Regions from separate parts of the Homo sapiens genome. Here all the other regions are reported to be linked to region 1. Evidence: microRNA targets listed by miRTarBase, many of them from high-throughput screens and not tested one by one. Region 1 holds a microRNA gene; each other region holds the end of a gene's coding sequence.
Evidence for each region. The annotated mature microRNA hsa-miR-497-5p reads CAGCAGCACACUGUGGUUUGU and lies in region 1 at 2,724-2,744, opposite strand. An mRNA with a match to its seed (bases 2 to 7 or 8) in the 3' UTR can be bound and repressed. Matches are read on the target gene's strand: a 7mer-m8 pairs with bases 2 to 8, a 7mer-A1 pairs with bases 2 to 7 and ends in A, and an 8mer does both.

Region 2: the mRNA of TMEM161B is a reported target of hsa-miR-497-5p. Seed matches in the 3' UTR shown: 7mer-m8 at 918-924.
Region 3: the mRNA of RPRD1B is a reported target of hsa-miR-497-5p. Seed matches in the 3' UTR shown: 7mer-m8 at 2,090-2,096, 7mer-m8 at 2,093-2,099 and 7mer-m8 at 2,134-2,140.
Region 4: the mRNA of AHNAK2 is a reported target of hsa-miR-497-5p. Seed matches in the 3' UTR shown: 7mer-m8 at 1,179-1,185, 7mer-m8 at 1,182-1,188 and 7mer-m8 at 1,185-1,191.
Region 5: the mRNA of ANLN is a reported target of hsa-miR-497-5p. Seed matches in the 3' UTR shown: 7mer-A1 at 1,085-1,091.
Region 6: miRTarBase lists ITGA2 as a target of hsa-miR-497-5p. Seed matches in the 3' UTR shown: 7mer-m8 at 1,229-1,235 and 7mer-m8 at 2,714-2,720.
Region 7: miRTarBase lists PLAG1 as a target of hsa-miR-497-5p. The part of its 3' UTR that is shown has no 7-base or 8-base seed match.

What each region holds. Positions count from the first base shown.
Region 1 is chr17:7,015,256-7,019,333 of GRCh38, forward strand. It overlaps MIR497 (microRNA 497), which reads right to left and starts at 2,767; the gene lies at 2,656-2,767. It overlaps BACC1 (BPTF associated chromatin complex component 1), which reads left to right. Exons shown (of 6, transcript NM_174893.4): 3 at 519-620; 4 at 1,240-1,430; 5 at 1,655-1,759; 6 at 2,006-2,265. The coding sequence ends at 2,010. RNASEK-C17orf49 (RNASEK-C17orf49 readthrough) reads left to right here. Exons shown (of 8, transcript NR_037717.1): 5 at 519-620; 6 at 1,240-1,430; 7 at 1,655-1,759; 8 at 2,006-2,269. MIR497HG (mir-497-195 cluster host gene) reads right to left here. Exons shown (of 3, transcript NR_038310.1): 2 at 1,814-2,133; 3 at 563-759. It also overlaps MIR195. RefSeq lists enhancers at 1-340, 753-1,952, 3,304-3,473.
Region 2 is chr5:88,192,460-88,196,537 of GRCh38, reverse strand. It overlaps TMEM161B (transmembrane protein 161B), which reads left to right. Exons shown (of 12, transcript NM_153354.5): 12 at 50-1,491. The coding sequence ends at 327. Among named protein-coding and RNA genes, the nearest start is that of TMEM161B, 74 kb to the left of the region's middle.
Region 3 is chr20:38,089,518-38,093,595 of GRCh38, forward strand. RPRD1B (regulation of nuclear pre-mRNA domain containing 1B) reads left to right here. Exons shown (of 7, transcript NM_021215.4): 7 at 209-2,847. The coding sequence ends at 358. Among named protein-coding and RNA genes, the nearest start is that of RPRD1B, 58 kb to the left of the region's middle. RefSeq lists a silencer at 3,390-3,684.
Region 4 is chr14:104,934,750-104,938,827 of GRCh38, reverse strand. It overlaps AHNAK2 (AHNAK nucleoprotein 2), which reads left to right. Exons shown (of 7, transcript NM_138420.4): 7 at 1-1,575. The coding sequence ends at 765. It also overlaps a transcript of PLD4 not described here. Among named protein-coding and RNA genes, the nearest start is that of PLD4, 12 kb to the right of the region's middle.
Region 5 is chr7:36,452,326-36,456,403 of GRCh38, forward strand. It overlaps ANLN (anillin, actin binding protein), which reads left to right. Exons shown (of 24, transcript NM_018685.5): 24 at 152-1,466. The coding sequence ends at 275. Among named protein-coding and RNA genes, the nearest start is that of ANLN, 65 kb to the left of the region's middle.
Region 6 is chr5:53,089,883-53,093,882 of GRCh38, forward strand. ITGA2 (integrin subunit alpha 2) reads left to right here. Exons shown (of 30, transcript NM_002203.4): 29 at 64-180; 30 at 637-4,000. The coding sequence ends at 717. Among named protein-coding and RNA genes, the nearest start is that of MOCS2, 18 kb to the right of the region's middle.
Region 7 is chr8:56,162,662-56,166,739 of GRCh38, forward strand. PLAG1 (PLAG1 zinc finger) reads right to left here. Exons shown (of 5, transcript NM_002655.3): 5 at 1-4,078. The coding sequence ends at 3,582. Among named protein-coding and RNA genes, the nearest start is that of PLAG1, 47 kb to the right of the region's middle. RefSeq lists an enhancer at 4,008-4,078.

The sequences.
Region 1 (4,078 bases):
CTTTGTGCGTGGCACAGCACAGAGTCGGTGTTAATAAATGATCGTTGGGTGAGGGAATGAATGACAGATAAAAATACAGACAGGCCCATAGCCCAGACTCCTGTTTCACAGTTCTCCCTGCTGCGAACGGGTCGACCACAAACCACCGCCACTCCCAACCACCCCAGTTCATGGAATTCCCCCAGACGGCTGCAGGCTGTGTTGGTGGGTCTGTTTTGAAAAGCCCTTCCTGGCGAGTTGGTTTCAGTGTGCTGTGTACAGCAGCCGTTTAACGTTGATGGTGGAAAGGGGTGTCTAAGGTGGAGGTGGTTGTGATTTCTTGTGATTGGGGTCCTCCCGGTTCCCGCAGGGCCTCAAGAGCTTTCCGCCTCCCCTTACGGAGGACCTCTTTATGCATCCGTGGAAGGGGTCCCAGAAATCGGAAGGAGGCGGCTGGTTGGCTGTGGGATGCATAGCCTGTGGGCGGGCTCCACACCCCCCCTCCCATTTTTGCTATCCCCCCTCTCCCCTTCTGACAGTGCGAAGTGGACGGAGACGGAAATAGAGATGCTGAGGGCTGCTGTGAAGCGATTTGGGGACGATCTTAATCACATCAGCTGTGTCATCAAGGAACGGACAGTGTGAGGGAGGGTGGCTGCCAGAAAAGGGCGGGTGGGCAGCCTTCTTCCTCCTTACCCAAGGTTCCATCGTCCTCAGAACTCCTTTCCAGCTCAGCTGCTTCCCTACTTTGTCACTAGTTTTTTAGAATCCCCTTGAGGACTGAAAGAATAGAATTGTCACAGTTGGTCAGAAGTTCCTAAAATGCTGTGGTAATCCTTCCAAGAATGTGAATTTAGGTTGCCTGAGATGCTGTTATTGTATTTGATGATGGAAGTCCCCTGGTTATTTATATAAATGTTTGAGGACCCCACTGCAGTGTTTCCAGGGATATGGTGACCCTGAACTAGTTGATCAGTAAATCTCAATCCACCTGTAAATCACCAAGCTCTACCTGATGTCTCTCCCAGAAGAGAATTAGGAGATGGGCCTTTCCCACTACTCAGTTCAGGGACTCCACTCTCCACACTCCATCCATCCTGAGTGAGTGTAAAACTTCGAGAAAGTGAGAACCCTACCAATGGGTTGGGGCCCCGACCTGGATTCTTATGAAGGGACTCCCAGAACCCCTTCCCCTCCCGTCCCCTCTTCTGTTAGTCTCTCTGATGACTCCTTTCCTAACCTCTTCTCTCTTTTCTTCAGGGCCCAGATAAAGGCCACTGTGAAACGCAAGGTATATGAAGATTCTGGCATCCCCCTTCCAGCTGAGTCACCCAAGAAAGGGCCCAAGAAGGTGGCATCTGGTGTCTTGTCACCTCCTCCAGCTGCCCCTCCTCCCAGCAGCTCCAGTGTCCCTGAGGCCGGGGGTCCCCCCATAAAGAAACAGAAGGCTGGTGAGGGCTGTGGAGTTGCTGCCTAGGGGTTAAAGGTCCCATCTGAGGTTTAGTGAGAGAATTGGGCCTGGGTCAAAGAAGGGTCAGTCTCTCTTCCTGTCCCTGTGGAGGTTCCCAGAGAGGGGCAGAGGGGAGGGGAGAGGAGGCACAAAGCTTTGGGAAGCTTGGGGCTGGGGGAGAGGCTGTCAGGGGAACCTAGAACCTAGCTTATGCCCCCTTCCCAGATGTGACACTCAGTGCTCTGAACGACTCCGATGCCAACAGTGACGTGGTGGATATTGAAGGGCTAGGAGAAACTCCTCCAGCTAAGAAACTCAACTTCGACCAGGGTAGGAGTCCTCCTCCTCCCACACAGCTGACGGGGTTGGGGAGAAAGGGCTCACCTGGATGGCAGGGCACGGTCTCCGCAGGGGCCCCTCCCTTGTATAGGGGTTTCAGAAGAGAAGGTGCTCTCATACACAGCGCAGGGCATTGGATCAGTACGTAGCAGGGTGTTTCAGGGAGGTGGGAGTGGCCTTGGAAGCACACTGGGGGCTCGCTCCATCTCGGCCCATTTTACTTCCTGTTCCAGACAGCCTGACCCTGGATTCTGGCCTTCTCATGACCTCTGCTGATCCTCCTCTCCTCTCCTGCTGAGCCTTCCACCTCTGACCTCTCACTGTTCATGCCGGACCTGTGGATCTCCTGGGACTCCGAGCAAGGCCTGCACGAGAGAGGGCTGAAAGGCTGCTGGGGCTGCCACCTCGCTATTCCCGCATAAGCATCTGCCCCCAACCCCTTTGACCTTCATCTGATGGACATTTTTATACAGAAAACAATAAAGATTTCCCTCTCAGCTTCGTGCTGTCTGCTTAACATTATTAGCAGGAGAGGCCTGTTCCCTCTTCTCTCCTCGGCCCATGGGGGCTCAGCCCCTCCTCGGTAGTTTTCACCACCCTGCCTGGAGCAGCACAGCCAATATTGGCAGACTCGCTTCCCTGTGCCAATATTTCTGTGCTGCTAGAGCCAGGGAAGCTGGGTGTGGGCAACAAAGACTCCACTTTGTTCTCTTGAGGCAGAACTTACTCCCAGGGTCTCTGGCCATCAGTATTCTTGAAACTGCCCTGGAGATTTTAGAGGGGTGCTTACATACCCCACCCTCTCCTTGCCCACCTGGCAAGAAGTTTGTCACAAGGCCCCAGATGTTTTTTGTGTCACTTCTCCAGGATGGCCTCCCAGGGCCAAGCCTCGGCGGTGCCTCCCCCACCCTCGCTCTAACACCACAGTGTGGTTTGGACGTGGCCACAGTGCCGTACAAACCACAGTGTGCTGCTGGGGCGGGAGCAGGACCGGGGTGGGTTGAAAGGAAGAGAGCACATAGCAGTGCTGGGAAGACCCCAGCACCACCTCCAGGAGCGGGGGGATAGAGAAGCCTTAAAAGGCAAACATGGCCCCCAAAAACGTTTGGGAGGAACCAGGGACGGGCTGAGCAGGCAACTGGAAGGCGACGGACCATGGGGATGAGCTCACAGTGTAGTAAGATTGGACCATCTTCCCTCTGTAGGAACTCAGCTCAGGGGATCCCTAGGGTGGGGTCAGAGGCAGAAGAAATAGGGAATGACTGGAGGGGCCAACACACTGCCTCCTGTCTCAGCAAGGGCAGGGACCCAAGGCTTCCTGTGTCCGTCCTTCCTCTCCCTGGGTCAGAACCCAAGAGAAAAGCAAGGAGAGACAGAGGGCCAAGGCCAGCAGGGTTGGGAGTTGGCAGTCCAGAGGTGGTGGGGCCGGAACATGGTTGGGAGAGGGGGGCCGGAAGTCGCCCTGGGCCCTGGGCCTGCCACAAGATGGAGGCCAAAGGCAGGAAATGGAGACCAGGGGGAAGGGGAGCAGCAGAGCCCAGGAAGAGGGCCATCTGGACCTGGGGGGCCAGGTATTCAACCCCCAGTGCTGTTCCCACTCCCCAGGGCCCCTGAGGACCCGAGCCGGCCCCCACAGCAACCTCCATCAGCCCATCCACCAGGCCAGGGCAGGCGGGCCCACCCCAGAGAGCCACGTTTAAGCTGAGACAAACATGCCTCTCCCCACCCCCAACTCCAGGCCTTCCCTCAGCCCTTTTCTCCTGTCCAGGACTTGATTTTTTAAAAACACCCCTCAGAAAGCAAAATCCAAGGGCCAAAACTCCTTTTGCAAATCAAAATATGACCCCCTAAAATCCAGAAGTTATCTTCCTATATCCCATCGCATCTTTTACCACCCCCTCTTCCGACACACCCCCCAAAACTCTTAGCAATCTGAAAGATCCAAGGTGGTGTATGTAAGCAGTCTTTTTAGGCCCCCGAAGATGCCAGACCCCTCCCGGACACCCCTATCTGCCCTCCATCAAATCTTGCCAAGGCCTCCTGCTCCTCCACCACCCTCCATAGCCCCCAAACTAACAGTTGCCCCCAGCTCCTACCTCGGCAGAGCCTTTGTGGGGGGTGAAAGAGAAATTAAACACTATCCTAACGGCTGGGGATGTTGGGGGGCTCTCTGGTCTCAGCCTTTGGTTTCCGTCTGGGGGGCTGCAGTTTAGGGGTATAAGAGAAAGCCTCTCCAATCATCCCCCCAATTCCAAGACTGACAAAGCCAACCCCACCCCAGCACGCACCTCCAAACCTCCCCCCCAACCG
Region 2 (4,078 bases), not on the chromosome of region 1:
TTGGTAATTAGTTACTCTTCAAATTGTATTTGTGTCTTTGATTTTCTAGGTAATCATTCCTGGGGTATTTATCCAGAATCTATCTCTACCTTACCAGTGGATAATAGTCTACTGTCCAATTCTGTTTACTCTGAATTACCATCAGCTGAAGGGAAAATGAAGGTAACTGTTACACAAATAACAGTGGCACTGAGCAGCTTAAAAAATATTTTTACTCCTCTTCTTTTTCGAGGACTTCTGTCTTTTCTGACCTGGTGGATTGCTGCTTGCCTCTTTTCTACAAGCCTTTTTGGGCTTTTCTATCACCAGTATCTGACTGTGGCATGAATCTCAGTTAACAAAAAAGCATATCCAAATCACCCTTTAAATTAAAATATCTGTGCCCTTAAAGGGCTGATGAAAACCAGAAGAAAGCAAATACAATGGGAAAAAAAAAACATATCAGAATGTCTTGTATTAAATGTTTCCTCTGTATTCTCAGGGTGAATTAATGTAGTAATATTTAAAATTACAAAATAGATTGTTAACTGTTACACTGTGGCATTGGAATTTTAACTCTTTGTATTTACTGGTATGAGAGGGCTATCTACAAGGGTAATATTTCTGATTACCCTGGTTTACAGAAACCTCCAGCAGTCTTTGAAACATCTCACATGACTCTAGTTATTGATTGCTTTTAATGGTTTTATGGTACTGTTGATAGTCATAGTGGCTGCCTATAGAACAATCTTCAAACTGAGCCATGCTTTAGGGGAGGGAAAGGGGCTAAAGTCTCTTCTGTTGGTAATTTATTAGTTACTCTTGAAACAATAAAATCCAACAGAAAGGAAGAGATAGCTACTGTATATTACAGTAAAGAAAGCTGCATAGTTATTTTAAATTTAATGGAGATGAATATGGTTAAAATATATAACTACTGCTGCTTGAGAATAGCAAGAGTATTGTTTTAAAACATATTCCACCCAACTTGAGAGTTCTTTTAAAATGATTGGCCATATGAACATTTGTAATCTTGCCATTAGGTTTGGACCTGCCATATTTTGTTTTATTCTGTGATCCTAACTAGTTCCTTTTAATAGGCTAAAATATTTATCAATACTGATCAGACTTTAAAGAAATTACTTTGTAAACCTGCTGACTACCTGTATGTATTGTATATATATTATATATTAAATATATAATATATTGAGATTATAAAAGATGAAAATATTGAATCCTTATAATATTTTAAGTTGCAGAATGTATGTTAAAAAGTGACTTGAATGAGATGTATTTGTATCTAGAAATTTTATTTCTTTTTGGAATGAGATTAAAATACATTTTGAAAGTTCAGCAGAGTAAGCAATTTATTTGTGTTGCCTATGTGTGAGTGTATTTAAAGTTTTATGGACGCTTAATGGTTTCTCCCAAATTAAAATTCTTTTTCTGTCATTTCCAAAAATCAGAATCTTTCCCTCTCAAATCAGGTCTACAGGTATCATGTATGCCTTTGTTAAATAGGACTTGTTTTAAATTTGTAGTTTCTAGAATTAGAAATATTTTTGTTTTACTGGCCAAAACGGATAATTTGAATGAAACATTCAAGGGAAATGAAAAAAAGTAAAACTCTTTTTGATGCCTTTTACATCTAAAGTTCAAAATGAAGGGTCAAGATTGTAAAATGTGTAAGAGATAAAGGTAGTTTTTTTGTCTTTTCAAATAAATGAATACATGCTTTTCCATATAACTCTTAAGAGGCTGTCTTTATGTTTCAGTGCTGTTAACACTGTTGAAAGCAAGTTTGAAACTCTTCTTTTGGAATAACTTTCAGGGCTTTTAAGGTTCACAGTCATCTGAAAATTTTAATATAGCAAATTCCTGTCTTTGGGTGTAGATTTAAATATTTTGGAAATAGCCATGTTTTAAAAGGAAAGGAATGCTTATACACTGCTGAGGATGTAAATTACTTCCAGTCCTATGGAAAACAGTATGGAGATTCCTCAAAGAACTAAAAATAGAACTACCACTTGACTGAGCAGTTTCATCATTAGGTATCAATCCAAATGAAAGGCAATCATTGTATCAAAAAGAGACCTGCACTCATCTGTTATTGAAGCAGTATTCACAGTGGCAAAGTCATGGGGTCAACCTAAGTGGCCATCAGTGGTTGATTGGATAAAGAAAATGTGGTATGTATACACCATAGAATACCATGCAGCCGTAAAAAAAGAATGAAACTATGTTCTTTGAAGCAACATGGATGAAACTGGAGGCCATTATCCTAAGTGAACTAACTCAGAAACAGAAAATGAAATACCAGATGTTCTTTTATAAGCGGGAGCTGAACAATGAGTACTCATGGAAATAAAAATGGAAACAGTAGACACTAGGGATTCCAAAAGAGGGGAAGTGGGAAGGAAATGAGGGTTGAAACACTACCTGTTGCATACTATGTTCACTATTTGATTGATGGGTTCACTGGAAGTCCAAACCTCAGCATTGTGCAATACACCCATATAGCAAACCGGCACATGTATGCCCTGAAACTAAAATAAAACATGTAAAAAGTTGAGTAGTAAGTACTTAAACTGGATAAAACTGACTGAAATGAATTGTGAATATATCCTAATGACGCTTCATGTGTATTTCCAAAGGAAGCATTTCAAATATATTTTGAGATATATCAGCGTCATCAAAATGTGTTTGTTTTATAATAAGATGATACCAAAATTTCACATTTGTTTTGTATCTGAAAATTCTCACATGTTGGACTAGGGAAGAATCTCACCTGGTATTTATAATCATTCTTACCAAAGAGCTACATTTTAAAAAGTAAAATTGAAGTTATTATTTTAAGTTTCAAAGATTGTACAGTGCAGTAATATGGTGTAAAAGACATAGAATTCATTATTGGATGGAATAATGTATATTCCTAAAGTTCTGTTAATTCATTCTTTTTAAACTTAAACTCTAAGTATACTCTGGCTTGAGCAAACCAAGTATTTTAAGTAACAGGTTTGGTTTAGTTTTTTTAGCCTTTCAAAGCAAATTTGAACTAATTGGTTTATTTATGCATTTTGTCTTTGAACCAAGAGTTATGTTCTTCAAATACAAAAGAGTTTGTACTTTATGTAAACCAAGTAATATTTTAATATCCCCAAATTAGACCAGTATAGTTCTTTTATTTTGTATGTTATACTTTAGTCAATATAATATGCTTCAAAGCATATATAAAGTTATTTTTATTGTATGTGTTTGCCCTTATAATCTTGGTTTTGTATGATTAGTAGGATTGCGACAATTTATTGGTTCCTGTCTTTCCGACTACCCCACTTGCTAGCCATTGCACTATAAAATCAGAGCTGTATTCTTCCTCCTACCCCCATTGATTTGTCTGAAATGAAAAGCATATAATTTTATCTTAATATCCATGTGCATTTTTATTATATCAGTATTTTTCCCAGAATCCCAATTGATGTGCGTAAAATGACCAATGCATACAAGCAGAATGGGCTCATTGTCTTATTGTTTCTGATATAAATATCATTGGTAAAATAGTGGCATTTCTTCCTCAGTTATGATTCAGAAGAGATATTCATCCATTAATGGAATTGACAGGTCCAGGAAGCAATAAATAGAATTCATTATGAAATCTATAATTGGAACTTCACTGGATAGATATTATTCTTTCAAATGAAAGATTGAATTCTCAGTATTTTGAAGCCTAAGGTCTCAACATTCTCTGAATTCATATACAGTTTCTGAGCCATCACTTAATTGAAGATGTTCTATCAAGGTATATGGCTTTATTCAACAAAATAAAACTAAGTGATTTTTAAATGCAGATCATCCTGTGTCTTTGCAAAGATTTAGGTGTCTTAAGGAATCAGATTTAAACACACTAGTGATACTAGAGCTTGAACCCAGTGTCTCGAATACTTGTACCATCTCATCTTTTAACTCCTATCCATCTTATTATGTTCATACCTTGGGTTTAGAGCTGAGCTCGTTATGTGCCATGAAGACTCTGACATGGACACCAAGGATGGTCAAAAAGCTAATGTCTTGCTTGATGATATCTTGGGATTAAAATAAAAGC
Region 3 (4,078 bases), not on the chromosome of region 1:
CAATATGGCACTCTGCGTTCCTTTTTTGATAGAAAGTTTTGCCTTTTGAGCATTTGAAGCCCTAGCTTTGTGATATAGCTGAACAGGGTGGGCAGGCTGGTGGGGACAAGGAAGAACACGAGGACGAGAGTAGCTGCCCGGCTCCAGCAGCACCCATGCCCTCGGCACGCACAGACTTAACGGTATTGTCTTCTCTTTATCTCCTTAGGAATACAAACAGAAGCTTGCACGAGTAACCCAGGTCCGCAAGGAACTGAAATCCCATATTCAGAGCTTGCCAGACCTCTCACTGCTGCCCAACGTCACAGGGGGCTTAGCCCCCCTGCCCTCTGCTGGGGACCTGTTTTCAACTGACTAGGATGGGTGTCATGTCCCAGATTTCTGTTTGTACCAGCAGAAAGAAGAGGGCAAGTCATGGTTGGAAATAACCTTCTAGCCCCTGGTTCTATCCCTTCTTCCGCCCAGCCCCCCAGCCTCAAGAAAGAACCTCAGACTCTGATTCTCCTCTTCAGCCTCTCATCTTGAGCACAGTTCAGAACAGTGGCGACTGGAATCTGGTTTATATTCATATTTGCAAAGACTACAGACTTTTTCTCCCACTTCATATTTTCATGCCCCCCTGTTGGTTTTCCATTCTTAACTGTCTCCTTATACCTAAGAAGTTATGAAAATCATGTGTACTTCTGGAAGCTTTCGAAAGAATCTTGTCCCTCATGACAGCATTTTATCATGAAAGCAGCTTCTCCTTTCTGGGCTGGGCTTGTTCAAGTTCGGTGTGGGCTTCCACTAAGGCACTTGTCCTGGAGACGTTGGCTTTCCCAGCTGCATCTGCCCCAAAAGGTTGTAGGCACAGCTGTCGTAGCGTTGCCATAAAGAGTTTGCCAAATCTCTGATCCTCCCTTTCCATTGCTTCTCCTAGTGATGCACGAAGATTAGGTGCATTTATTTTGTAAACAGATTGGAGAATCTAGCAATAAGATTCAAAGCTAATCTGGAGCATAAAGGCACAGTTCAGAGACAGAATAACAGGGATCACAAGCATGAATTAAAAGGAATTTATTTGCTTCAAGTTCCTAGATACAACCTTCCCATGCTGCACTTCTCCACTGTCGGAGCACGTTCCGAAAAACAGAATGCCTTGATCCCTGGTGGGTGCGAAGGCAGTTGTTAGGGATGGCAGGCATTGGTGGGCTCCAAAAGATGAAGGCCCCACACACAGGTGTGCTGCATTTGGGATCTGTGTGGGTGTTTCTTGGACCCTTTCTTCTGGGAGTAGGGTACACACTAACGTTTAATCCGCTGTCTGGGTGCATGTCCACAGTACGGTGGCTAAACTCGAACATCACTGCAAATAGGACGCTGAGCAGGTCCGTCTGTCATGTCACGCCACTGCACAGGTCCTTGTCCCCACACGACGGGGAGTACTTGCGTCAGATGTTATTGAATAGCTCGTCTCGGGCAGGGGAAGCGGGGAGTTGGGGATATTAATTGGGGGTTTTAATTCTATTATCATGTCAGCTGACATTATGACTATATAATGTAGTTAGAGACAATTTTTATCTTGCTTATAGTAAAGGTTCAGCCTGCCAATTGTAAATCATTCTAATTTGGCAGGCTTATTTTTGACATTGGAAAGGGCAGAAAGCGATTTGCCCCAGTAGTGTAATAGGAGTTATAGACCAGAGGCTGAAACCCAAACTATATAAAAAGGAATTCAGTGGAGGGGGCTTTGTAATCTCCATTAATTTGTGTTGCTACTTCCAGGATCACCAAAAATTACATGTAATTTTACATGTTAAACACATTGAAACATAACCTATGTTTATAAAGCATAACGGGCTTCCCTTCCAGAAGCTCTCCTGCTTGTCATGAAGTGAGAACAATGAAAAGTCATAGCAGATACTCAGTTTAACTCTGTGTAGAACCTAGTAGTGTTTGAGCTGTTATTCAGATTTGAATTCAGACTGTGTGTTGTTTGCTTATGGACACTGCCTGTCGTTCTGTCACTGTTAAATTAATGAGTCTATAAGGTTTTTCTTCCAGAGGCCATAGGTGACATCACTAAAATTGCAAGATAAATTGTAATCTTTGCTGCTGCTGCACTCCCCAACCTCTCCCCCACCCCCCGTGGTGTGCTGCTTTCTAGATGAGCGTGTTTTGGAGCAGGCCCATCTGGGACACTCTATGCTTTCACCAAGGAAGTGCGATCTGAGCAGCCACAATCCAGCCAAAAGAGGATCGTAGATATTTGCTCTGATCAACTAGATGAAAATATAGCAGAATGGATTTAGCCCACTGCTCTGTTTTATCCAACTGAGTCTCTGACCAGCAATTGGTGCATAATTATTACAGCAAAAGTTAAGAAATGAAACTGTAGCAATTATGTAAATGAATGTGTTGGCCTCTTAATACCTGTTACTAGTGGACTTCCTGTGAGGAAGTTAGTTTTTTGTTTTGATGAAATGCTTTCGTTTTTTAAATCTTAATTCTGCTGTCCACATCCTCCCAAAGTGTGCTTACTTCATTTGTTTAATTTAAATGAACTTTCCTCCTTGTATGTATGAGGTGACTTGGTGGGTGGGGTGGGTGGTTTTTGTTTTTGTGTTTTTTCTTTCTTAGGGCATCTGTAGGCCTCAAAGGACCTTTCCTTTAGGTCATATTCCTCAGAAAGTCTTCAATCTTCCCTTGTTTTTGTTTGTTTGTTTTTCTTAAAGAATATTTTCAAAGCTTAAATTTGTATATTAATTTAGGACTATTTAGAAGTATAGGCTGTCGTTGGCGGCAGCAGTATATTCTGAAATGTCTCATAGATATATATTTTTGAATAAAGATGGTGTTGTTGAACAACATTGTGTGATTTTTTTTTTAAACTACCCTGTTACTGAAAACAGTGCCTTTCTTTGTAAGCAGTGGGTGATTAGTAATCACCAATAGAGAATGTGCTGTCGGCACAGAATCTTGTCCCTTGGGAGTTTTTGTGTCTGTTAGCGGCACATAAATACTCAGCATTTACGTAGTATTTTCTGGTTCTTTCCAGGGGCTTAATTAGCTTTAATTAGGCAGTCCACACAGTACCCATGAGAGGTGCCGCCATAGTTTTACCCTCATTGTACAGAAGTGGGAACTGATGGAGAGAGATTAAATGACTCTTCCCCCATACTTCACAGCCAATCTCTGACAGATTAAAACTTGGAAGTTCTTTGATTTTAGCGCCTTTGTTCACACCAGTAGGCCTCCTGAGAGCGATTTGATTTTGGCAGTACACGGAAAGCCACGCTGAACAGTAAAAAGACGAAAAATGTGAGATAATTGCGAACCCAAGTGGTATGTCTCTTAAAAACAGTCATGGCTTTGCTTTGTCCTTTTCACTTGTACATGGAGTGAAAGCATATTGACTGTGTATTGCTGGTTAAAGCTCTCAAAATAACAAAAATGATTTTGAATTAGGTCCTTTTGAAGCAAGTGATATGTTTGGAAGGATCATAAACCTGTCCACTGGGTAATGGCAGCATCTGCCAGAAGAAGTGGGGTTATCTTATGGTGCAAAAACCTCTGTAGTAGGTGTGGTTCATCAAGACTGCAACCCAGATAAGTCCAGTATTAGGAAAATTGAGACTGCATTACCCAAGTTCTGTTAAAATATGAAAGTTGGATGTTACATGTGAATCTCAAGAGACAAGATCTCCTTCTGTGTCCCCAGATTTCATGGTCTAATTTCTTCACTCCTCCCTATAAATAGTAAGTCCATGATTCTTCTGGTTTAATTAGCACTTCAGGCTACAAAATGACTTTGAGGTCTTCAGAGCTGAAGATGGAGCTACCCAAGAGTCCATGAATCTGTCAAAATGCTTATCCTTTGTGACTAGAGCCATTAACTCTCTGTGTCACCTTCCTGGGCAAGGTATTTTCCTCTCTGGGCCTCAGTTTTTTCTTTCTTTTTTTTTTTTTTTTTTTTTTTTTTCTTTTTGAGACAGGATCTAACTCTTGCCCAGGCTGGTGCAACCTTAGCTCACTGCAGCCTCAATCTCCTCGTCTCAAGCTATCCTCCTATCTCAGCCTCTCAAGGAGCTAGGACTAC
Region 4 (4,078 bases), not on the chromosome of region 1:
TCTAGGACTCAGGAGGGCACAGAAGAGGCTCCCATACAAGCCACCCCAGGAGTAGACTCCATTTCTGGAGATCTCCAGCCTGACACTGGAGAACCATTTGAGATGATCTCTTCCAGCGTCAATGTACTGGGACAGCAAACACTCACATTTGAAGTTCCTTCTGGCCACCAGCTTGCAGACAGCTGTTCAGATGAGGAGCCAGCAGAAATTCTTGAGTTTCCCCCTGATGATAGCCAAGAGGCAACCACACCACTGGCAGATGAAGGCAGGGCTCCAAAAGACAAACCAGAAAGTAAAAAATCTGGTCTGCTCTGGTTTTGGCTTCCAAACATTGGGTTTTCCTCTTCTGTTGATGAGACAGGTGTTGATTCCAAAAATGACGTCCAGAGATCTGCTCCCATTCAAACACAGCCTGAGGCACGACCAGAGGCAGAACTGCCTAAAAAACAGGAGAAGGCAGGCTGGTTCCGATTTCCCAAATTAGGGTTCTCCTCATCTCCTACCAAGAAAAGCAAAAGCACCGAAGATGGGGCAGAGCTGGAAGAACAAAAACTTCAAGAAGAAACAATCACGTTTTTTGATGCCCGAGAAAGTTTCTCCCCTGAAGAGAAGGAAGAGGGTGAACTGATCGGGCCTGTGGGCACTGGGCTGGACTCCAGAGTGATGGTGACATCCGCGGCAAGAACAGAGTTAATCCTGCCCGAGCAGGACAGAAAAGCTGACGATGAAAGCAAAGGGTCAGGCCTGGGACCAAATGAAGGCTGAGAGGTATGGCTCATCAGTACAAGAGAGATGCAAAAAACTAAGTTGGAAAGTAAAGGCTACACACACATATGGAGCACCCCATCCCACAGCACATTACATCCACCTCACTTCACAGAACGGAGAACAGAGCAGAAATGACCAGAACACCTTTGTCACCATCACACAGCCCTCCTAAAATGGAACCAAAGCTTCCCAGCTCCCTCAAAGCTTTGGATGCAAAGAAGGCACCCTGACTTCCACAAGACACCAGAATTCACACGGTACTCAGAGGCACTGCTGGGGAAGTTTGTTGGTCTTTATTAGATAAATTTCCAGAGACCTGTCCATAATACCCAACAGAACATGACTGTTTCTTTGAGGAAAGGGTTATAATGTCTGTGGTGTACAAGTCGTTTTTGGTATAACTTCTTTCCTGCTGCTGCTGCTTCCCGGCAAACATAGTTTTCCTATTTCAGGCAGAGTGCGGTATATTCCAGGAAACACTGTTTCCTACTCACTTAGCTTACTTCTTTGTTGAATGCCTCACTAATGGCAAGTTTCAAGATGTTTTGGGTGACAATGCACACATGCTGGGCAAAAGGGTGATGGCCAGTGGCTGGCAGCTGGGCCAGCAGAAGCTAGGACATCTGTGAGTTGTCATTCTCATCTATCCATGTCCACTGGCCTGCCAGCATCCGCCAGTGCCTTGCCAGTGTGCACGGTCCCACACTGTGGCCCCTGAGTCCCCTAATGTACACGCTGCAGCCAGAATGCAGATGGAGCTGGCTTGGCTGTTCCCTGGATGGGCAATAAAGAAAGTGCTGCATCCCATGCTGAAGGCTGCTGAGGTCTTCTGTCTCAGGGTCGAAGTTTACCAGGGCTTTCCTCCCACACACTCCTGGTCTCTACTAAGCAGCTCTAGAGAACAGTCAATGAGGAACATTTGGGTGGTTGCCTACCTATCATCCATTTGTCCAGGTCCTCCTCTGAGCCAGAGGCTGTGAGGAAGACAAGGAAGATAGGGCTGAGTTCACAGTGTGGCAGGGACACAGACGTACAACCCTCCCTCCCTCCCTCCAGCTGGAGGCAGTGTGGGATGGGAGATGGAGTGCAGAGTGGGGACAGCACAGAAAGGTGACCTTGGCCATCTTTAGTGGCCCATCCTCAGAAGCTTCCTTCACCACAGAGGCGCTCTTGGGCAGCCCACAGGAAGCAAATCCACGTGGCGTAGCGGATTGAGGTTCAAGGGTTTCCCTACAGTCTTTCAGTGGTCAAATCTCTTCCCAGATGCCCCTGCCAGATTCATGGGTATGCAGTGTTCAAGGGGGCAGTTGGAACTTGCCCCCAGCTCCCTCCTGGCCTAGGTGGGCTCCTGGTGAGAAGCGCTTATGGCCCCCTGGGGAGGTGGCTGCTCTCATGGCTGTGGATATGGGAGCAAGAGCTGGGCTGTGAGCCAATCTGGAGGACCGCAGTGCCTGGAGGGTGAAGGCCACTCCGAGGCTACCACTCGTGCTGCCCTGAGAGGTTCCAGAGGGGTGACAGCTATGGGGTGCAGGAGCCTGGGCAGGGGAGAGGCTGGGTTCTTTCCCCATGCCACCATGGGCATATGTTCCCTGTGCTGAGTTGGGGAGGCCCGTGGGTGTCATCCAAGTTAGGGCACATAGAAGCCTCTAGAAAGTGAACTGACACAGGTCCCCTGGGGGCTCATGAGCAGGGGAAGTGGGAAGGGAAATTTGGTGGACACTCATCCCAGTTAAGCAAGGCCATCACCCTCTCCCTTCCCAGGGCTTCCTGCCTTCTCTACTCCAACTTGTGTGTGCCAGACAAGCTAGGTGAGTGCAGCCCAGGGGGAGGAGTCTGCTTGGCTCCATGGGGCTTTTGTCCCTCTCTGATCCAAGAGTCAAGGCCTGGGATAGTGGGGACCTTGGTGCTAGAGGCCAGAGAGACAGCTGTCCCAGCATGTGAGGAGTGGCTGAGCAGCAGGGGCCCCCACAGGGTTCTCGCGTGGCCTTGGTTCTCTGTGTATGAGTTATCTATGCTGCATAAGAACATCACTACAAATTAGCAACTTAAAACAACACACATTTATGATCTCCCAGTTTCTGTGGATCAGGAGCCCAAGTGTGGCTTTGTTGGGTTCTCTGCTCAAGGTCCCATTAGGCTACAATCAAGATGTCAGCTGGGGCTGTGGTCTCCCCTTCAGGTATGACCAGGAAAGCAGCCACTTCTGAAGCTCACGTTGTTGCTAGCCACACTCAACTCCTTGTGGATGGGATGATTGAGGGCCCCAGTTTCTTGCTAGTTGGGGGCTGGAGGCAACCCCAGTACCCTGCTACATGGGCCTCTTCATAGGACAGCTCATAGCCTAGCAGCTCACTTTTTAAAGCTAGCAAGGGATAGACTGCTATTCCTTGATAATGTTATAATCTTATGTCACATGATCACAAGGTGTCACAGGAGTGACATCCCCTTACCTCTGTATTCTATTGGTTACAACAAGGCACAGGTCCTGCACACACTCAAGGTGAGATCACACAAGGGCATGCATACCAGCAGGTGGGGGTCAAGGGAGCCATTCTAGAGTCTGTCTGCTATAGCCCAGAAGGGGCCACATTGTGGCACCCTCCTGGGGTCTCCCAAGCCTTGTCAAGCTGGATTTCCTTTGGAATAGGCATCTGCCTTGAAGCAGGCCTCTGTCAGTGCCACTGAGGTGTGACTGCCAGTCCCCAGGTGTGTGGAAAGAGGCCTTTCACTGGCTGAGGGCCACCAGCCAGTTGTCCAAATCACAGCCTGGAGCACAGAGCCCTCCTAGAACATAGTTGGCAGGCCAAGAGAGCAGGCCAAGTGCTCTGAGACACATTCAGGTATAAGGCCAAGAACCAGGGAGCAAACCCACACGTGCAACCCTGGAGGGCAGAGCTTAGTCTGGGATGATATCGGCTTCTGAGCCAGGTGTTGCCACGAAGCTTTTTGCCAGATGGTTACTGAGGAGATATGGAGCATGAATGAGGGATAGGAAGCCACAGGGAGCAGCCACTGCAACTGCCAGAGCTTGGCTTGGCCAAGTGCAGCTCACACACAAAGCAGCCCCCAGAAGCTCCTGAAGGCCTTGCAGGGCTATGTGGATCCCTATCCCCCTGCAGCATCTGCAGCAAGCTTTTCACAAGCTTGGGCAGGGAGGCAGGATGGGTGTAGGAGATTTCTGCACAGACAGAATGCTGAAGTCTAAGGTGTCCTTTAGATGGGGGAAGTATGAGGTCACTAATCGAACAGAAAAGTAACTTGTACTGTACCTGAGATGAACTTTGCTAGCTTTCCCCAAAGCAAAGAGGGA
Region 5 (4,078 bases), not on the chromosome of region 1:
ACTAAGTGGCTGTGGATTAGCATCCATAAAAGGTGGTTAAAGGTAATTCATTTACTGGTTTATTTAGTCATTTTTTTCCCTAGCAAGAGTACATGGGGGTATGGAATGGAGGGAGAAGAATTCTGACCTCTTTGGTTGTTTGTTCCTGTAGGAACTGGCTGTCTGCAGATACTAAAGAAGAGCGGGATCTCTGGATGCAAAAACTCAATCAAGTTCTTGTTGATATTCGCCTCTGGCAACCTGATGCTTGCTACAAACCTATTGGAAAGCCTTAAACCGGGAAATTTCCATGCTATCTAGAGGTTTTTGATGTCATCTTAAGAAACACACTTAAGAGCATCAGATTTACTGATTGCATTTTATGCTTTAAGTACGAAAGGGTTTGTGCCAATATTCACTACGTATTATGCAGTATTTATATCTTTTGTATGTAAAACTTTAACTGATTTCTGTCATTCATCAATGAGTAGAAGTAAATACATTATAGTTGATTTTGCTAAATCTTAATTTAAAAGCCTCATTTTCCTAGAAATCTAATTATTCAGTTATTCATGACAATATTTTTTTAAAAGTAAGAAATTCTGAGTTGTCTTCTTGGAGCTGTAGGTCTTGAAGCAGCAACGTCTTTCAGGGGTTGGAGACAGAAACCCATTCTCCAATCTCAGTAGTTTTTTCGAAAGGCTGTGATCATTTATTGATCGTGATATGACTTGTTACTAGGGTACTGAAAAAAATGTCTAAGGCCTTTACAGAAACATTTTTAGTAATGAGGATGAGAACTTTTTCAAATAGCAAATATATATTGGCTTAAAGCATGAGGCTGTCTTCAGAAAAGTGATGTGGACATAGGAGGCAATGTGTGAGACTTGGGGGTTCAATATTTTATATAGAAGAGTTAATAAGCACATGGTTTACATTTACTCAGCTACTATATATGCAGTGTGGTGCACATTTTCACAGAATTCTGGCTTCATTAAGATCATTATTTTTGCTGCGTAGCTTACAGACTTAGCATATTAGTTTTTTCTACTCCTACAAGTGTAAATTGAAAAATCTTTATATTAAAAAAGTAAACTGTTATGAAGCTGCTATGTACTAATAATACTTTGCTTGCCAAAGTGTTTGGGTTTTGTTGTTGTTTGTTTGTTTGTTTGTTTTTGGTTCATGAACAACAGTGTCTAGAAACCCATTTTGAAAGTGGAAAATTATTAAGTCACCTATCACCTTTAAACGCCTTTTTTTAAAATTATAAAATATTGTAAAGCAGGGTCTCAACTTTTAAATACACTTTGAACTTCTTCTCTGAATTATTAAAGTTCTTTATGACCTCATTTATAAACACTAAATTCTGTCACCTCCTGTCATTTTATTTTTTATTCATTCAAATGTATTTTTTCTTGTGCATATTATAAAAATATATTTTATGAGCTCTTACTCAAATAAATACCTGTAAATGTCTAAAGGAATCAGTTGTTTAGGAAGCACTGTTTCAATGTGTGGCATGGTTGCTCTGCATCCCTGGGCTGGGAGCTTCTTGAGGGTACTGTGCTGACAATGTCTCATCCATCTTTTTCTCTCTACCCAGTTTGGCTTATTGTGTGTTCTTAGGGCTGCTATTGAATGCATAAGTGAATGAAGGATCTATTTCTGAGGCATTTCAACTGAATATGGTAATTGGATGTGCATTTGAGGATAGGGAGTATAATTCCCAAGTCTTTAGCAGATACTGAATGGATGAGTGATATCATCAGCCAAACAGGGAATAGGTTTGATGGGACTGATAAGAAGGTCCCTTGTATTTATTTATAGACTTGCATTTATTTTTGAGTAGGCATTAAAGGGCACAAAAGCTTGGTACAAAATTCAGAATGCATAAAGAAGGTAAAGTTAAAAAGCAAGTCTTTTCCTACTGTCATAACTACTTTTACCAATGTTTATGTCCTGCCAGAGGCCACTACACATATTGCATACAAATATTTATATTCTTCTGTTCATAAAAATATTCTATACATACCATTTATTGTAAGTTAAACAAAAAGTATAACAGTATTCCTTAGAGATCATCTAAATATATAGATAGTATTTATAAAATTCAACTTTAGAAGAAATTTAGCTTAAGGTGATTGTGGGACCTCAAGCTAGAAATACTCCGTAAACAGTAGAAAATGTCACTCTGAAGATTTCCAGTGTCATCTGCCTAAGGGGGATTGTTGAAACTATTGGAGTGAATAAGATCATCCAGGGAATATGATGTGGGAAGAGAAGAAAGAGAAAAAAGAACACTGTTCTTTTTTTTTTTTTTTTTGAAACAGGGTCTCACTCTCTCCTCCAGGATGGAGTGCAGTGGCACAGTCTCGGCTCGCCGCAACCTCTGCTTCCCGGGTTCAAGTGATTCTCGTGCCTCGGCCTCCTGAGAAACTGGGATTACAGGCACACACCACCATGCCCAGCTAATTTTTGTATTTTTAGTAGAGGTGGAATTTCACTGCGTTGGCCAGACTGGTCTTGAACTCCAGACCTCAAATGATCCTCCTGCCTCGGCCTCCCAAAGTGCTGAGATTACAGATGTGAGCCACCACGACTGGCCTGAACACTGTTCTTAAGGGGAAAAGTAGAAAAGACAAGTCTAATGATTGTCTTCTATGAAAGAAAAACAAGAATGGTGTCTGGTGAGACCAAAGAAGAAAAGATTTTGGCCGGGTACGGTGGCTCACACCTGTAATCCCAGCGCTTTGGGAGGCTGAGGTGGGTGGATGACCTGAAGTGAGGAGTTTGAGACCAGCCTGGCCAACATGGTGAAACCTTGTCTCTACCAAAAATATAAAAAATTAGCTGGGCATGGTGGTGCGTGCCTGTAATCCCAACTACTTGGGAGGCTAAGGCAGGAGAATCACTTGAACCCAGAAGGCAGAGGCTGCAGTGAGCCGAGACTGTCTCAAAAAAAAAAAAAAAGATTCTGACCACAAAATCATAAAGCAGAATAAAGAAAATGTGAATTGAAATTTGGAGCAGTCAGTTGAACAAAATGGTTCAGATAAAAAATCAGATTACAATAAAATCTGTATGGAAAAAGAATGACAGAATTGATTGCGTTAAAAAATCTGATAAATATCTAGAGTCAAAACACTAAGCAACAGACAAAGGGAGAATATTTATAACATATTTAATAAGGCATTGATAAAAAACAGAGCTCCTATGCAAGTGTAGTGGCTCATGCCTGTAATCACAGCACTTTGGGAGGCTGAGATGGGAGAATACTTGAGGCCAGGAGTTCAAGACCAGCCTGGGCAACATAGCAAGGCCCTGTCTACAAAAAAAAAAAAAAAAAAAAAAATTAGCTGAACATGTTGGCACATGACTGTAGTCTCAACTACTCGTGAGGCTGAAGTGAGAGAATTGCTAGAGCCCAGGAGGTGAAGACTACAAGTGAGCTGTGATCACCCCACTGCAATCCAGACTGGACAACAGAACGAAACCCTGTCTCTAAAAAAAAAAAAAAAAAAAACCTCAAAATTAAAAAAATAAAAAGAACCAACAAGTGGTTCACTGTTATCACATTGGGAATTAAGTAAAAGAAAAACAAAAGAGCTCCTATGACTGGCTATCTGTGAGCATTTACTATGTGCCAGGCGTTATTCTTGGTGTTTTGCATGCAGTATCTCAGATCATCTTCATAAGACCTTATCAAATAAGCGTTGAAGCTAAAGTTTTGCTCACTTTTCTGAGGTCCCACGTTGAGCAAGTGGCAGACCCAGATTTGCACTCAGTCTACTCCAGAATCCACATACTTACACTCTGCTGTTTCTCAATAAGAAAAAGAAAATTTAACCTAAAGAAGAGGGGCAAATAATATTAGCAGGAATTGCATACACACAAATCCAAAGAGCCGGCAAACATGTAAAAATAATACTAATAAAAATACAGATTTAAATGGCAATGGGTTATTGGCCCACAGGTGGTGAAACTATAACCAACATTATTGAGAAACGAACTTACGCTCTTGGTGGGAATAGAAACTGAAACAGCCTACTTGGATGGCAACTTGGTAACTTAAACAGGAATCTACTAACACACAGGA
Region 6 (4,000 bases), not on the chromosome of region 1:
CTAGACCATCTCCCCCCTTTTTTGTGGTATTAAAATAACTCAACTGTGAACTGACATTTCCAGATTCCCCTGATGATAATGAAACCTGATGAGAAAGCCGAAGTACCAACAGGAGTTATAATAGGAAGTATAATTGCTGGAATCCTTTTGCTGTTAGCTCTGGTTGCAATTTTATGGAAGGTAAGAAAAGCTTTATATTTTAAAATACAGGGCTCCTGAAGGCCAGCCTTGAATTTGCTTACAAAACATCAACTTCAGGTTTTATATGGTACCTTCTCTATCACAAGGAGAAAAGAAATGCAAATTTGTTTATAATTTCTTACTCATGTCATTAAAAACAACCAGTAAGGATTTTTCTTCTTTTAAACCTTCCTTTCATCCAGAGCCCTGAATGTTTTGTTCAGCTTCAAATAAGTAGACGCTGAAAAATGTAGCTTTATGCAATGCAGCTGAGCTCTCTGGATATAAATTTCCTTCTAGCAGGTGGTAGATATCAGGTCATCAGTCTGCACACCTCCCTTCAGAGCCTCAGGGATTCCCAGAGGTGCATCAGAGGACGTGGGCAGCCAAGGGGGTCAGAGGCACCTTACAAAATAAGCCACGGGTGGTAACATTCTTATATCATCACCTTTACAGCTCGGCTTCTTCAAAAGAAAATATGAAAAGATGACCAAAAATCCAGATGAGATTGATGAGACCACAGAGCTCAGTAGCTGAACCAGCAGACCTACCTGCAGTGGGAACCGGCAGCATCCCAGCCAGGGTTTGCTGTTTGCGTGAATGGATTTCTTTTTAAATCCCATATTTTTTTTATCATGTCGTAGGTAAACTAACCTGGTATTTTAAGAGAAAACTGCAGGTCAGTTTGGAATGAAGAAATTGTGGGGGGTGGGGGAGGTGCGGGGGGCAGGTAGGGAAATAATAGGGAAAATACCTATTTTATATGATGGGGGAAAAAAAGTAATCTTTAAACTGGCTGGCCCAGAGTTTACATTCTAATTTGCATTGTGTCAGAAACATGAAATGCTTCCAAGCATGACAACTTTTAAAGAAAAATATGATACTCTCAGATTTTAAGGGGGAAAACTGTTCTCTTTAAAATATTTGTCTTTAAACAGCAACTACAGAAGTGGAAGTGCTTGATATGTAAGTACTTCCACTTGTGTATATTTTAATGAATATTGATGTTAACAAGAGGGGAAAACAAAACACAGGTTTTTTCAATTTATGCTGCTCATCCAAAGTTGCCACAGATGATACTTCCAAGTGATAATTTTATTTATAAACTAGGTAAAATTTGTTGTTGGTTCCTTTTAGACCACGGCTGCCCCTTCCACACCCCATCTTGCTCTAATGATCAAAACATGCTTGAATAACTGAGCTTAGAGTATACCTCCTATATGTCCATTTAAGTTAGGAGAGGGGGCGATATAGAGAATAAGGCACAAAATTTTGTTTAAAACTCAGAATATAACATGTAAAATCCCATCTGCTAGAAGCCCATCCTGTGCCAGAGGAAGGAAAAGGAGGAAATTTCCTTTCTCTTTTAGGAGGCACAACAGTTCTCTTCTAGGATTTGTTTGGCTGACTGGCAGTAACCTAGTGAATTTCTGAAAGATGAGTAATTTCTTTGGCAACCTTCCTCCTCCCTTACTGAACCACTCTCCCACCTCCTGGTGGTACCATTATTATAGAAGCCCTCTACAGCCTGACTTTCTCTCCAGCGGTCCAAAGTTATCCCCTCCTTTACCCCTCATCCAAAGTTCCCACTCCTTCAGGACAGCTGCTGTGCATTAGATATTAGGGGGGAAAGTCATCTGTTTAATTTACACACTTGCATGAATTACTGTATATAAACTCCTTAACTTCAGGGAGCTATTTTCATTTAGTGCTAAACAAGTAAGAAAAATAAGCTCGAGTGAATTTCTAAATGTTGGAATGTTATGGGATGTAAACAATGTAAAGTAAGACATCTCAGGATTTCACCAGAAGTTACAGATGAGGCACTGGAAGCCACCAAATTAGCAGGTGCACCTTCTGTGGCTGTCTTGTTTCTGAAGTACTTAAACTTCCACAAGAGTGAATTTGACCTAGGCAAGTTTGTTCAAAAGGTAGATCCTGAGATGATTTGGTCAGATTGGGATAAGGCCCAGCAATCTGCATTTTAACAAGCACCCCAGTCACTAGGATGCAGATGGACCACACTTTGAGAAACACCACCCATTTCTACTTTTTGCACCTTATTTTCTCTGTTCCTGAGCCCCCACATTCTCTAGGAGAAACTTAGAGGAAAAGGGCACAGACACTACATATCTAAAGCTTTGGACAAGTCCTTGACCTCTATAAACTTCAGAGTCCTCATTATAAAATGGGAAGACTGAGCTGGAGTTCAGCAGTGATGCTTTTAGTTTTAAAAGTCTATGATCTGGACTTCCTATAATACAAATACACAATCCTCCAAGAATTTGACTTGGAAAAAAATGTCAAAGGAAAACAGGTTATCTGCCCATGTGCATATGGACAACCTTGACTACCCTGGCCTGGCCCGTGGTGGCAGTCCAGGGCTATCTGTACTGTTTACAGAATTACTTTGTAGTTGACAACACAAAACAAACAAAAAAGGCATAAAATGCCAGCGGTTTATAGAAAAAACAGCATGGTATTCTCCAGTTAGGTATGCCAGAGTCCAATTCTTTTAACAGCTGTGAGAATTTGCTGCTTCATTCCAACAAAATTTTATTTAAAAAAAAAAAAAAAAGACTGGAGAAACTAGTCATTAGCTTGATAAAGAATATTTAACAGCTAGTGGTGCTGGTGTGTACCTGAAGCTCCAGCTACTTGAGAGACTGAGACAGGAAGATCGCTTGAGCCCAGGAGTTCAAGTCCAGCCTAAGCAACATAGCAAGACCCTGTCTCAAAAAAATGACTATTTAAAAAGACAATGTGGCCAGGCACGGTGGCTCACACCTGTAATCCCAACACTTTGGGAGGCTGAGGCCGGTGGATCACGAGGTCAGGAGTTTGAGACTAGCCTGGCCAACATGGTGAAACCCCATCTCTAATAATATAAAAATTAGCTGGGCGTAGTAGCAGGTGCCTGTAATCCCAGTTACTCGGGAAGCTGAGGCAGGAGAATCACTTGAACCCGGGAGGCAGAGGTTTCAGTGAGCCGAGATCGCGCCACTGCACTCCAGCCTGGGTGACAGGGCAAGACTCTGTCTCAAACAAACAAACAAAAAAAAAGTTAGTACTGTATATGTAAATACTAGCTTTTCAATGTGCTATACAAACAATTATAGCACATCCTTCCTTTTACTCTGTCTCACCTCCTTTAGGTGAGTACTTCCTTAAATAAGTGCTAAACATACATATACGGAACTTGAAAGCTTTGGTTAGCCTTGCCTTAGGTAATCAGCCTAGTTTACACTGTTTCCAGGGAGTAGTTGAATTACTATAAACCATTAGCCACTTGTCTCTGCACCATTTATCACACCAGGACAGGGTCTCTCAACCTGGGCGCTACTGTCATTTGGGGCCAGGTGATTCTTCCTTGCAGGGGCTGTCCTGTACCTTGTAGGACAGCAGCCCTGTCCTAGAAGGTATGTTTAGCAGCATTCCTGGCCTCTAGCTACCCGATGCCAGAGCATGCTCCCCCCGCAGTCATGACAATCAAAAAATGTCTCCAGACATTGTCAAATGCCTCCTGGGGGGCAGTATTTCTCAAGCACTTTTAAGCAAAGGTAAGTATTCATACAAGAAATTTAGGGGGAAAAAACATTGTTTAAATAAAAGCTATGTGTTCCTATTCAACAATATTTTTGCTTTAAAAGTAAGTAGAGGGCATAAAAGATGTCATATTCAAATTTCCATTTCATAAATGGTGTACAGACAAGGTCTATAGAATGTGGTAAAAACTTGACTGCAACACAAGGCTTATAAAATAGTAAGATAGTAAAATAGCTTATGAAGAAACTACAGAGATTTAAAATTGTGCATGACT
Region 7 (4,078 bases), not on the chromosome of region 1:
TTTTAAAAAAATATTGGCCTATAATATGTGTATTGCTCACTAGATGAACGATCCTGAAAATATGTACTCTTTAACATTCATTATTAGCTTAATAAAGCAATCGGCTCTGGCTCATGTTTCAGTCAGTATATGGTTTTTAAAAACCGCTACTGTCCAAATTAACACAATATATCACTATATTCCACAAATGACTAAGAAAAATAAAGCACAAGCAACAAATAGGCAAAAATACACAGCTTGAAAGAAACACTAAATGAAATAAAAAAGTTGCACACAGAGTGATGCATAATCAGCCAGGACAATTGAAGTTTTAAAAAACTGAACTTGGTAATAGGATTTTAAAATGAAAGTTTTAACAGTGATCGATAACTATAAAGGTACTTGTATACATCAATGGATAGCATTGCTTACAGTGCCAAGATCCTTCCACACTCACACTTCCGTGTTTGGTGACCTAACTTGTACATACATGTGGAAGTGAAACTGAATGAGGTTCAATATCTTGTCTGAGGCCCAAATTCTAAACTACTTTTATTTAATGTTAATCCCTTTTTTTTTTTTTTTTTTTTTTTTTTAACCAAGCTAAGGCACTACCAGAAATTTCAAGGATAATGATTCTGGCCACTAGAGAATGAAAACAGCATTGGCAATACTTATTTTTAATCATATCTAGTTGACATAGAAACAAACAATCTTTTTCTAGGGAAAAAAAAGCCAATTCTGTGTTACATCCTTGTTAGAACATTGTGCAATTCAAATAAGCGAGTCTGCCTCATCTTTAATAGAAATTCTCTCAAAAAGGGTTTAGTGACCACTACAGTCAATTTTAAAAACAAATTAGCTGAATTCCCTCTTACTCTGAAGTGTTATTTCAAGTCTGGGGGTGGGAACAGGCAAAGAGGTGTACACATGAAAATTAAGACTCCAAAATTTTAACACTGGTGCCCTGAAGATGTGCCTCCATGTATTTGAATTTCATGCAGGGCAAGATTTAAGTATGTGTGTGTGTGTGTATATATACACACACACACACACACATACACATACATACATATATGGCGCTATTCCCCATTTCCAAAATGCTTTACTTAATAAATCCTGGTACTCCCTTTTTTAAATTAGCAGTGAATACAGCCTACTAAGGCCAATGTCTCAGTTCACTAATTTGATGACTTCTTAAGTACATTTTAAACAGAATAAAGTAGTGCTTCCACACTTGCTATTTGTGATTTCTATTTAAAAATAGGTTTTCTATTTGTGCTCTGTCACCAATTTTTTTCCTTTTATATGGTGATTAAAGCAATATTGAACACTAATCATTCAACTAAAGATTTAGGTAAGCAATCTGTTTCATAGAAACTAAAGGAAGCAGTAATGAAGCAGAGCGAAAAGCCTACTTTCAGAAAAAATATTCTCCTAATCAAAAGCTAGGAGCAGTTTGAAAAATTTAAAAATGTACTTCCTTATTAACATATATAATTTTAATGCCTTTGGAACACACTTTTTTAATAAATGTAATTTTTCATAATAAAATTTAAATACATAAGTATAAAAACTACTGCTCCAAGGATTAAAAAAATATAGGAGCATGATAAAATATCAGGAGCCAAAGCTCCTTCAGAGAGCAACTTTGATTCTATGAAGTGCGGTATGTGTGCATGTGTGTGTGTGTGTGTATTATATATATATATTGAAGCCCCCATTTACATTATTACAATTTACATTTCTCCACAAATTATACTACTCCCAAATATTTTAAATAATGTATTATATTCAGTAATCTGCACTCATTTTTAGAAATTCTTGGTAAACATTGCAATCTGCAGTGATAACTGGCCCTACAAAAAGGAAAGAAGTTTCCATATAGGGCTAATGAGTGCTCAGAAATATTTTTCTTTCTGTTTTTTTTTAAAGAGATATATACTCTTCTAAAAACCTCCCACCCTTGCCCCCATCCCCAACGGAAAGGGTCCTAAAATAAGGTGTTAACAAGTGCTTAATAGATATGTTTCTTAGGTTAATGTCCCAACTGACCCTTAGAAAAATATATTAATTAGACCTTTAAGAAGATTATGTTGGTTGTCTAATGTGAGGAAAAGCCTATAATTATTCAGTGAATATAATATATTCTCAATTGTTATTTTCATGTTAACCAAGATAGGTTTGTTTTACTTTACTTTGTTACCCTCTACAAACTCAACTTATTTGCAATACTCCTATCATTTCCCAGAGATGCATGAAAGTGGGATTTTACTGTATATATTTCTAGTCACTTAAAACTTTGTGGTAGTTCATCAGGTAGTTTTCTAATGCATTTAACTTCAAATTCTCCATCCAAAATATTGCAAGGAAAGATGGATTCACATTGAATCAGAAAGATAACATCGGAGTAGGACTGTTGTTTTTGTTTTCTGCTTTTGATTCTTAAGGGAAAGAAAAACATATCAAATTCAGCAAGAAATGATATAAGCGATATGCTTTTACTTTACTTCTAAAAAGTCCAGTTTTTAACCCTGGCTACAGGGGCCATGATCCCTACACAAGTTCCCAAATGTAACCATGTGCTTCACGTCTATCTTCCTGCTTAGAAGTCTGTCACCCACAGAGGCTGAGTCAATCCACTGTGGGATAAACACACCTCATGGCTGCAGTTCCACAATGGCTCTAGATTATGGACTAACCGTGGGCCAACAATGAAAATAAATTGCTGGCTGCACTTGACCCACCCCTTGGATGTGAAAGGTGGAAAAGACTAAAGAGATCTACCTATATATCGACTCTGAAGACCCCAATGCCATACACTATTACTATTATTAAATGAAAAGATAGCATGTTAAGAAGGATGAAACACGACAAAATATCCTGTGTACTAATTTAGGGCCAACTATTAAGTGACACGAAATGCCATGTCACCTAACAGAGTCTCTTTTTGCTATAAATACTGATGCTTTGTGTTTAGGGTTTGTTTTCCTTAAAGGCTCATAATAAAGATGGCAAATATTTTAGCCAGACAACAGGGAGTCTTCAGAATATACTGATCTGAAATTATGGTGTATCTAACAAACATTTATTATCTTCCGAAACTGGACTCTTAATTCATTTGAAGCACTTGATTATTAATCCATTTAGAAGCTAGTAAGAAAATTTAAACCCTTGAGTTATTCACAAACTTTTTATACAATTTACATTCTATTGCTAAATTTTTTAATGAGCCAGATGTCAAAAGGTAGAGCCACTGTTATTAGACAAAAATGAAAATTTTAAGATCTAAAAGTAATTTGAAAATGGGATTTGTAAAAGTTTACTACTAATAATGGCTTTCCTATATGGAAAAAAAAAAGTCTTAAAATGTGACAATTGGCAGTGAATCAGGACAAAATACCCAGGTAAACTTAACTGAACACAAATGGTTCCAAAGCTCAGTTTAAAAGCTAGTTTCTATTTTATACTGGCTTAATGAAAATTTGTATTATACAAAAGCAGAAATTTTTATACTGTTTTAAAGTAGGCACTAAAATAAAAATGGTCATCTAGGGCACAGCTACACATACATTTCTGTAATGAATCCATGTCCCAGAATCCTACTGAAAAGCTTGATGGAAACGTGGGAGGGTGGTACTTGTGCTTAAACTGCTGGTGAAAGCTGCTGACAGTGAGTGCAGAGACCCAAGCCCTATAGTGTTTGCAGGATCCTGAAGATCCTGTGTTTGTGGGGGGAGCTGGGAAACAGAAGAATGTGCTTCTTCCTGGGAATAGCTCATTCCAAGGCTCCCCACTGATAGAGGATTATAGGGAGGACCATTTAAAGGTATGAAATTAAACAACTGAGAAAAATCCAATGCTGGTGTGTTTAGGGGGTCACTGATGGAGATAGAGCTTTTGGATAGGGAGAGGTCTCCTGCACCATCATCTAGGGACCCAATCTGAGGATCCAACCCTAGCTTAGATGATGACGATGCTTGAGAATCTTGGGATGAAGAGGGCACGCCACCTTGTAACTCCATCAGGTAACTCTCAATTTCCCCCTTTAATGGCTGTTCTTTTTCAGGAATAGAAATTGCATATGAGGTAGAACTGA